3 linked regions of the Homo sapiens genome follow. The protein of the gene in region 1 interacts with the protein of each later gene in a biochemical or structural test. Each region holds a gene or a part of one and is shown in the gene's direction. Other genes may lie near its edges. The genes, in order: NLRP3, TRIM50 and TRIM31.

Evidence for each region.
Region 2: the proteins of NLRP3 (region 1) and TRIM50 form a complex in vitro, tested with the Homo sapiens proteins (one study listed by BioGRID).
Region 3: the proteins of NLRP3 (region 1) and TRIM31 form a complex in vitro, tested with the Homo sapiens proteins (one study listed by BioGRID).

The regions. Positions count from the first base shown.
Region 1 is NC_000001.11:247,436,631-247,440,282, forward strand, and holds part of NLRP3 (NACHT, LRR and PYD domains-containing protein 3), read left to right. Parts: intron 1-2,650; exon of another isoform or gene 2,651-2,903; intron 2,904-3,652. UniProt on the Homo sapiens protein: Sensor component of the NLRP3 inflammasome, which mediates inflammasome activation in response to defects in membrane integrity, leading to secretion of inflammatory cytokines IL1B and IL18 and pyroptosis.
Region 2 is NC_000007.14:73,311,984-73,315,159, reverse strand, and holds the end of TRIM50 (E3 ubiquitin-protein ligase TRIM50), read left to right. Parts: intron 1-1,490; coding exon of another isoform or gene 1,491-1,531; exon of another isoform or gene 1,532-1,649; coding exon 1,650-2,239; 3' UTR 2,240-2,624; downstream 2,625-3,176. UniProt on the Homo sapiens protein: E3 ubiquitin-protein ligase that ubiquitinates Beclin-1/BECN1 in a 'Lys-63'-dependent manner enhancing its binding to ULK1. In turn, promotes starvation-induced autophagy activation.
Region 3 is NC_000006.12:30,106,559-30,110,210, reverse strand, and holds part of TRIM31 (E3 ubiquitin-protein ligase TRIM31), read left to right. Parts: intron 1-1,162; coding exon 1,163-1,185; intron 1,186-2,023; coding exon of another isoform or gene 2,024-2,042; coding exon 2,043-2,158; intron 2,159-2,423; exon of another isoform or gene 2,424-2,548; intron 2,549-3,652.

The DNA.
Region 1 (3,652 bases):
ACAGGCTGGTTTGTTAGTGTCTGTCTTTGAAATGTGGTGCCCAGACCTGATGATGCATGGTGGATGTTTTACCTCCTGTTGCAGAGAACTATGGTTTCACTGGTGGAATCTCTGATTTCCTTGTTTTTTTTGGCAGTTACATAAGCCTTTTGATTCATGTTGGAATTCTGCAGTAAACAGTAGTAGGGAATACCCACTAATAATCATGCACTTTCCCTGTACCACTTTCCTGTATCACTTTCCCTGTATCACCTGCTCTTTCATGTTCTTACATGGATTTTCTCAGTTGGCTTCAGAAAGATGCTATAGGGTAGGGTATCTGTGTCTCCAATTTAAAGAGGAGAAAATAAAATTCAGGGAGCCTCATAACTTTGTCCAAGGACACTCAGAGAGAAGGTAGTGGAACTCAGTGTAGACAAACGTCTGTGACCTCCCAAGCCACTGCCTTAATTCCCAGTGCATTGCCTTAGGAGATGTTGCTAATGGGCTCTCTACAGGGCTTCTTCATCTGGCTCTCAGCTTAAGGGTGGGACCTCCAATTTAGCTTTGCTAAACCTCATCTTACCTGTCTTTTGACCCATTGACTAGGCAGTTTTGAATCTTCATTCTGACAATAATATCTACAAATACAATAAGCAAATTGGATAGGTCTTCATTCATTCACATTATTAATATATATACCAGCCAGATCAGCATTCAAGACAAAATTTGGCAGGAAAGGTCTTCCCAGAGGAGTAATCCACTAATCCATAATTAACAACCAACCTCTGTTCACAAAGCTCTGATACTTCCTTGGACCTCTCCCATCAGCCAATCCTCAGATGTGACCATATCTCTTTCTATGAAGTCTTCCTGCAGTGCCTTCATTTCCTCGCCTTAGGGTATTACCCTTCCTTAGCAAATCGCCTTAGAATATTACTCTTCCTTGGCAATTTGACTTCTGCTTCTCTAAGTTTGTTCAACAGACATGATTTTGTCCCTTCATTTTGCAGGCCCTCTGGGGGCTCTGTGGTGGGCACTGACAGCAGCAGTGAGTAAAACAGACCAAAATCCTGTTTTCACAACCGTTCTTTTAGGGAAGTGATAACAGATAATAGACATGCTAAACAATATACCCTGTGTATAAGAGCTATAAGAAAAACTGGAGTGACGGCGAGGGGTGCTTCTCTGCTCACGTTTGGCGAGTGCCTCTCCGAGCGGGTGACATTGGAGCAGGTGCTCAGTGAAGCGTGGGATGGGCTGTGAAGGAGCCGGAAGAGCCCTCCAGGCAAAGCAGATGGAACCGAAGAGGCCCAGGCGTAGGCACTCAGGTGACTCTCAGTGATCCTGGTTCCAAATTCCACATGACAAACAAGCCAATTACAAATGTGCCTGATGCATCTGTAATATGCTCTATGTAGTTACTATTGTCAATACCTAACCTGGTAGAGCTGCTGTAATAAAGTATCACAAACAGAGCGGCCTAAACAACAAGAGTTTATTGCCTCTCAGTTCAGGAGGCCAAAGTCTGAGACTGAGGCATCAGCAGGCTGGGTCCTTATAGGTCGTACAGGTCCTTCCCAGTCCTTACTTTAGTTGACATCTGCTGCCTTTAATTCATTTCACTCTTCCTCTTTGGAAGCCTTCTTCGCTCTTATTTTTAGGTCACTACTTAGTCTTTCCTGCTAATGTTATAGCTTCCCCCTCCCTGGATCCTGCATTGGCTTCTCTTCCTGTGGTCTGGGGATTTCACGACTGGTTTAGTTGTGTTTTTTTTTTTTTTTTTTTTTTTGAGTTGGAGTCTTACTCTGTCACCCAGGCTAAAATGCAGTGGCGCAATCTTGGCTCACTGCAACCTCTGCCTCCCGGGTTCCAACAATTCTTCTGCCTCAGCCTTCTGAGTAGCAGGGACTACAGGTGTGCACTGCCATGCCTGGCTAATTTTTGTATTTTTAGTAGATACGGGGTTTCACCATGTTTGCCAGGCTGGTCTCGAATTTCTGACCTCAGGTGATCTGCCTGCCTTGGCCTCCCAAAGTGTTGGGATTACAGGCGTGAGCCACACACCCGCCTGGTTTACCTTTTTTGTTGTTGTTGTTACTAAATATTTCTAAACTCCCTGAGAATTCTCATATACCTCTCAATTTCAACAACAGTAGGTCTCAAACCCAGATATCATTCACAAACTTTTTATTAGAAAAGTAACACATGCTTGGTGTAAACATATCATAGTACAGACAAAGTGGAAAGTGAAAGCTCCTTCTCAGCCCTCTTCTGAGAGAGCCATTTACAATAGTCTGATGAACAACCATCCAGACTTTTTTTAATACAATAGATTGTTATATAATCCATTCATCTGTCCATCCATCCATCCATCCATCATCCATCCCTCTATTTTCCATCCGTCAATCCATCCATCCATCCATCCATCCATCCATCCATCCATCCATCAATCCATCCAAGGGAGTATCAGAGCTTTGTGAACATATATTGGTTGCTAATTATGGACAAATGGATTTCCTGTATATGCTGATCTGGGTGGTATTTATATCAGTAATGTGAATGAAGACCTATGTGATTTTCATGTTGCATTTGTAATACATTGTTATGTAGTATTTTAAATGCCTAGTCTGTTAGAGCTACTGTAATAAAGTATCACAAACAGAGCAGCTTAAACAACAGAAATTTATTGTCCCTCAGTTCTGGAGGCCAGAAGTGTGAGATTAAGATGCTAGCAGGCTGGGTCCTTCTGAGGGCTGTGGGGAATCTGTTCATGCTTCTCTTTGGCTTCTGGTGGAATGTCATCTTGCTGACACATTTTGCCATTCCTTGACCTGTAGATGCCTCTGCCACACCATTGCCTTTATCTCTACGTGGTGTCTTCCCTGTGTCTGTGTGTGTCTTTCTCCATGTCCCAAGTTTCCCTGTGAAAGAACACAAGTCATGTTAGATTTGTAACGACCTGATCTTAACTAATTACATTTTCAGTAACCGTATCACCAAATAAGGTCACAATCTGAAGTACTGGGGCCTAGGACTTCCACATATAAAGTCTTAGAGGAAACAATTCAATCCATAACACCCTATCTATTGAAACTAGAACCATAATATAAATATTTTTCTGTGATATCCTTTTTTCATTTATCATGGATAAATTTCCATGCTGATTTGTGTAGATCTATCGATTGGGGCATAATATCCCATAGTGTGCTTTACCATAATTTATTTAATCAAATCATGCATTTTGGGATAACTGTTCTTTTCCACTATTACAAACAACTCTGCAAAAAGCACATTTGTATATATAGTTTTATGCATGTGTATTTGCTTTGAGATAGGTATCTATAAGTGGCATTAATCAGTCGAGACTTTTATGCATTTTATGTGTTAGGTACAGCCATACATGTGGCTGTGTGTTAGGTATAGCCTATGGGTTAGGCATAGCCTGTGTGTTAGGTATAGCCTATGGGTTAGGTATAGCCTACGTGTTAGGTATAGCCTATGTGTTAGGTATAGCCTATGTGTTAGGTATAGCTACATTTTTTTCTCTCGAACTTTGGGTCCTCATCTCTGGCTGCATATTGTGTACTGCCTGTCTCAATACTGCTCAAGGGTCACACATGCTGAGCATTTGCAACATTGGTTTAATTATCATACCCCACCTTCCACCCCC
Region 2 (3,176 bases), on another chromosome or scaffold:
AGCCACAGACTTGGGACCCAGGACACTGCCTCCCCAGTGATGGCGGATCTCATCACATTTGTTGTTGTAATTGGTCCTGGTAGCTTCCACCAGCTTAGCCCAAGCTCCTTTGTCTTCCAAGTTAACCTGTGTGAAGGCGACAGTGGTGCAGGTCTTCCTGGGGACTAGACATCCCAGTCTTGCCTTCCCCTTGATGATGCAGTCAGGGACCCCACTTTACACACAGGCACAGGCAGGAAGACAGCCAGCTTGATGGGACCCATGTTGCGTGGAGTCACCACCAGCTGAGCCTTCCTTTTTTTTTTTTTTTTTTTGAGACAGAGTCTCTGTCACCCAGGCTGGAGTGCAGTGGTGTGATCTCAGCTCACTGCAACCTCTGGCTCCTGGGTACAAGTGATTCTTCTGCCTCAGCCTCCTGAGTAGTTGGGACTATAGGCGTGTGCCACCACGCCCGGCTAATTTTTGTATTTTAGTAGAGACGGGGTTTTTCATTATGTTGGCCAGGCTGCTTGCAAACTCCTGGCCTCAAGTGATCTGCCTGTCTCAGCCTCCCAAAGTGCTGAGATGACAGGCATGAGCCACTGTGCCTGGCCCAGCTGAGCGTTCTTGTTCTCCATCAAGGTGGTGACGGTGTTAATTCCTGCTCCAAGGACAGGTGGCCTCTTAGTGGGGACATCCCCTTTGCTGGCAGCTTTCTTCTCAGTCAGGGCCAACAGTCTCTGCTTCTTCTCTTGCTTTGCCCCTGGTCTGTACTTCTGGGCCAGCTTAAGCAGCTGAATAGCTGTTTGGCGGTCCAGGGCCTGGGTGAACTGGTTAATAGCAGGAGACAGTTTCTGCTACTTATAGAGGATGGCTGTCCGCCACTGCACCCTGACCGAGCAGGACCATTGCACAAAGTGGGCGAGGTCCGTTTTGGCCTGGAAGTCCTGTCCAGTGCCAAAAGTCTTAGGCCTTTTCTCAAACGGGATAAACCACTTTCTTGGCCTCCTGCTTCTTCACGCCAGCAGGGGCCGGAGCCACCTTCTTCCCCTTGGCCTTCTTTCCTTGCGGCAACTTGGGTGGCGGGAAGGGGTGGGAGGCGGGCAGGGGGGAGCACATCTCACATTTCTGGGGTAAACGGATCAGCTGGTAACTAGCAAAAAGCTCAGGTGGGCTAGTTCGTCCTTGAATAGGCTGACTAGGCTAGCAAATCCAACAGCTGCAGTTGTTATGGGTTCTCCAGAAATCCCTGAGGGCTGAGCTATAGGCTCACAGGACAGGTGTCTTCCGGGTCCTTCCCACAACACCTCTGTGTCAGGCAGGCAGGCCAGAACCCCGAGCCCAGTGTCCATTTCTTTCTCCAGCCACCTCAGCCCCCCACAGCCCACCAAGCTGCTCCCTTTTATATAAACACTGTTTTTGCCTTGGGTGGATGCAATCAGTCTGTGATTGATCTTCCTTATGTAAAACTTCATTCATTCATTCATTCATTCATTCATTCATTCATTCAGGGAGCAGCCCTGTACTGGCCCCTTCTAGACCCTGGGGCTAGAGAGATGAGGAAGACACAGCCCCTCTCCTTGGGGAGTTCAGGGCCTCCATCAGCTTCTGTGGGCCGGGTCTGCTGCCCTCCACGTGGCCTCACAGACCCTCTGTGATCTCCCTCCCAGCCCCGGAGCCTCTCAAGTTGGACCCTGCCACTGCCCACCCACTCCTGGAGCTCTCCAAGGGCAACACGGTGGTGCAGTGCGGGCTTCTGGCCCAGCGGCGAGCCAGCCAGCCTGAGCGCTTCGACTACAGCACCTGCGTCCTGGCCAGCCGCGGCTTCTCCTGCGGCCGCCACTACTGGGAGGTGGTGGTGGGCAGCAAGAGCGACTGGCGCCTGGGGGTCATCAAGGGCACAGCCAGCCGTAAGGGCAAGCTGAACAGGTCCCCCGAGCACGGCGTGTGGCTGATCGGCCTGAAGGAGGGCCGGGTGTACGAAGCCTTTGCCTGCCCCCGGGTACCCCTGCCCGTGGCCGGCCACCCCCACCGCATCGGGCTCTACCTGCACTATGAGCAGGGCGAACTCACCTTCTTCGATGCCGACCGCCCCGATGACCTGCGGCCGCTCTACACCTTCCAGGCCGACTTCCAGGGCAAGCTCTACCCCATCCTGGACACCTGCTGGCACGAGAGGGGCAGCAACTCGCTGCCCATGGTGCTGCCCCCGCCCAGCGGGCCTGGCCCCCTCAGCCCCGAGCAGCCCACCAAGCTGTAGGGCCGCCCGGAGTCCTGCCGGCCCACAGGCCCATCCCGGCGGGGCACCGGGGACTCGCGGGCTTCTGCTGGGTCCCGCCTGAGGTGATATCGTCACTGTTTAGGAAGGTCTTCAGGCCTGTGTGTCCCTGGAACATGTAATGATAGGGAACAGGACCCCAGTCCCTTTCCCCTCAGCCAAGGGTGTATTTGTAAACTTCGGCCCCCAGGCCTTGGCAGCCAGGGACACACTGAAATCCCCATGGTTCCTGCCACTTGCTAACCATGCTATCTGCGCAGACGCTTCCGAGGGCAGAAATAGTCCCATGTATACCTTTTCCATATTACTGTGAACTTTCAACTACTATCAAGGATAATAAATTTGACATTATTTCTTTCTCTTTAAATGATTTGCACATATTAGTTGCTATACATACTGCTTTATGCTCGAGTCTTTTTTTTTTTTTTTTTTTCCTGAGATGGAGTCTCTCTCTGTCACCTAGGCTGGAGTGCAGTGGCACGATGTAGGCTCACTGAAACCTACACCTCCCGGATTCAAGTGATTCTCCTGCCTCAGCCTCCCGAGTAGCTGGGATTATAGGCATGTGCCCCATACCCAGCTAATTTTTGTATTTTTAGTAGAGATGGGGTTTCGCTGTGTTGGCCAGGCTGGTCTTGAACTCCTGACCTCAAATTATTTACTTGTCTCAGCCTCCCAAAGTGCTGGGATTACAGGCGTGAGCCACCGTGCCCAGCCTCGAGTCTAGTTTCAGAGACAGGATCTTGCTCTGTCACCCAGGCTGGAGAGCAGTGGCACAATTGTAGCTTACTGCAGCCTTGACCTCTCAGGCTCAAGTGATCCTCCTGCCTCAGCCTCCTGAGTAGCTGAGACAACAAGTGTCTGCCACCATACCCAGCTAATATTTAAATTTTTAGTAGAGACGGGATCTTGCTATGTT
Region 3 (3,652 bases), on another chromosome or scaffold:
ATGGAATTACAAATTTTTCTAGTTAGTCACATTAAAATGATAAAAGTGAAATTAATTTTAATAAAATATTTTAACTCAATATATCTGAAATATTATCCTTTCAGCCTGTAATGAATATTTTAAAAGTATTAATGAGATATTTCACATTCTGGGTTTTTGGTGGTTTTTTTTTTTTTTTTTTTTACACTGAGTCTTTGAAATTGTGTGTATATTTTTCACTTTGGCACATCTCAATTCAGATGCTAAATTGTCAATTGTTAAAGTAAAATATAGTCTTACCAAATCAATAAAGTTGTGTTTAATGGAAAAAGTACTTTACCCTTCTTCTATTTATTTTATTTTATTTTTTGAGATGGAATCTTGCTCTGTTGCCCAGGCTGGAGTACAGTGGCGCGATTTTGGCGCACTACAACTTCCGCCTCCTAGGCCCAAGTCCCAAGTAGCTGGGATTACAGGTCCCCACCACCACGCCCAGCTAATTTTTGTATTCTTAGCAGACACGGGGTTTTACCATGTTGGCCAGGATGGTCTCGAACTCCTGACCTCAAGTGATCTGCCCACCTCAGCCTCCCAAAGTGCTGGGATTACAGGCGTGAACCACCGTGCCTGGCCTCTATTTTTAATTTAAATTTGAATTAGTAAAAATGAAATTAAAAATTCAGTTCTTTGTCACACTAGCCACAATTTCCAATGTTCAGTAGCCACATGTGGTTGGTGGCTACCATATTGGACAGTGCAAGTCTAGCTGGTGCTTAAAATAAGCTGAGATGATTCCTCCTCAAGTCATCTATTCTCCCACAGGTTCAAAAACCTATTTATTTATTTTAAGAAAGATCATGCAAAGCCATTCTAGCCTTTCTCCTGCCCTGGCTAGCAGGCTCCCTTGTTCAGTCTCAGAGCCAAATTCATCTTCTAAATCTCACTCTTCTCTTCTTCACTCAGTTCTTCTTGAGGTCAAAACACTTTTCTGCTTACTGGCAGAGCAGTGCTTCTTGGAGAAGCCCTTCGTGGTGGGGAGAGGGGAGGAGGATGGGGTAAGAGAGACTTGGAGGGGTTCTTACTCCTCCTGCTCTGCCCCACACCCAGCAGGCTCTGTATCTCCTCCTTGGCTCCTGGGAATCAGCCAAGTGCTGAGGCTGTGCTGTTTCTCTTTCTCTTCTAGGATATCAAAGTCGTCTTGTGCAGGTATGATGGGCCACCCCAAATGTATTTTGCCTACTGATTCATCCACACACAATTCTCAGCGTATATCCAAATGCAGTCAACATTCCTCTCTCAGAAATACCCACCCACCTCTAACTCTGCATTCATACATTTAGGCTGCAGCCGGGGAATGCCTATGCCAACCATATTAGCACGTGGTTGGTTGTTAAAGAAACCAGCTGTTTTCTCAGCCTTCCTCCTTCTTCAGCACAGATTCTACTATTTCCTGAATGCCCCCTTGCTCAACTGAATAGCTCCTGGGTCCCCTACTCTGTCTCCCTGACCCTGTTTTTTTCCCTCCTCTCTGTCTCCATCTCCCATCTTCATTTCCATATCTCCCTATGCCCTACCTCACTCCCGCCCCATATCCCTAGCCCTGACTTTCTGACTCCCAGCTCACTATCCCTTAACCGCCAGGTCTTCTTTTTTTTTTTTTTTTTTTTTTTTTGAGATGGAGCTTTGCTCTTGTTGCTCAGGCTGGAGTGCAGTGGTGCAATCTCAGCTCACTGCAACCTTTGTCTCCCAGGTTCAAGTGATTCTCCTGCCTCAGCCTCCCAAGTAGCTGAGACTACAGGCGCTTGCCACCAAGCCTGGCTAATTTTCATATTTTTAGTAGAGACCAGGTTTTACCATGTTGGCCAGGCTAGTCTTGAACTCCTGACCTCAGGTGATCCACCCGCCTCAGCCTCCCAAAGTGCTGGGATTACAGGTGTGAGCCACTGCTCTCAGTTCTACCCCCAGGTCTTCATCCCCTCATTTCTCAACCGCGTATCTCAGATCCTCCTTCTCCCACACCTCATCCCCTGATCTCACCAACCAGCTCAACCACATCTTCCTAGAAGTGAAGAGTTTCAGTTTCTCAACCCAACCCCTGTTCCTCTGGAACTGGAGAAAAAACTCAGTGAAGCAAAATCAAGACATGACTCCATCACAGGGAGCCTAAAAAAATTCAAAGGTAAGGAAGAGGCTGTATTTTCTCTATTCACCTACTTCCAGGAGATTCTCTCCCTGCTCACTCCACTGAAATGGAACTGTGACTCATACATGCCAACAATCCCTGGGCCCTTCTAGTGCCAGGCTTCTGGCTGAGTACTTTCCACGCATCAGTATGCCTCCTCCCAGGCATTTCTTATATTCTGTCTTTGTGATATGTTATTTATCTGCCTCCCTGACTCCTGCGAGAGCCATAGAGGGCCTGGACCTATTCCCCATGTGGACACCTGGCCTAGAGCAGTGGCTGTTGGGAAGTTGGTGATGAGTTGTCTGGTGGACCAGAGATGGCCTCAGGCAGGGACTGTCATCTCTGACTTCTCCTTCTCTGGTGCACACTGGTGTCTCCTCCTGCCTACAGAAGAAGAGAAAATAAATTCAAAATCAGTGACATTCTGGGGAGAAACCTCTTCCAGCCTTACAGGGAAACAGAAATCAGCAGAACAGTAGTGGATGACTTGGGTTTTAGATGTTCGCCAGATATTTTTCATAAACCTTTCTGTGTTTGCAACTAGGAAGAAGGGTTAGTATTTGTAAGGACTCCCCTTAATGTGAAGACTGTGTTGGTCTAAGGTGGGCATAAAGACAGCTAGATGGAATCTTCTGAAATTATCACCTGGAGTTCCACACCCACCTCCCCCACCCCAACCCCCAGCCCCCCATACACAAACACTTCCCCTTGGGACTACGGAAAAGGAGGACCAGGGCAATGCCCCAAGATCTCCACCCATTCAGCCGGGAATCTCCACTCGGCAGACATAAACAGGAAAGCATGTTTTGTTTTATTCTTAATTTTGTTGTCTGAGCTTTTCTTTTGTCCACTAACTGCTCTGCTTTGTCTAGCTCCTCCCACCCCACTGGGCATGATCTCAGCCGATCTAGCAACTTTATTTATTTGTTTATTTATTTATTTATTTTTGATGGAGTTTTGCTCTTATTGCCCAGGATAGAGTGCAGTGGCGCAATCTCGGCTCACTGCAACCTCCGCCTTCTGGTTTCAAGCGATTCTCCTGCCTCAGCTTCCCAAGTCGCTGGTGTTACAGGCGCACACCACCATGCCCAGCTAGTTTTTTGTATTTTTAGTAGAGACGGGGTTTCACCAGGTTGGTCAAGCTGGTCTCGAACTGCTGACTTGTGATCCACCCGCCTCAGCCTCCCAAAGTGCTGGGATTACAGGCGTGAGCCACCACGTCCAGCCCGATCCAGCACCTTTCTAGGCTCTTCAGGTCAAGAATAGTTTGGTTCTAGTTTGGAATTTCAATAAAGGAGCCCAGCCCTTTCCACTTCATCAGGTTTGGAGTTGGGGAGACTGGTGTGCTCTACTCTGTATCCCCCTTTTCTTTCCCTCTTTCACATACACAAACTCACACACACACAGTCCCCCAACTCCCACCTGGCCCTATTTCCTTCTTTTTTTTTTCTCTTATTTTTATTTTATTTTTACCCCAAAGAAGAAGGC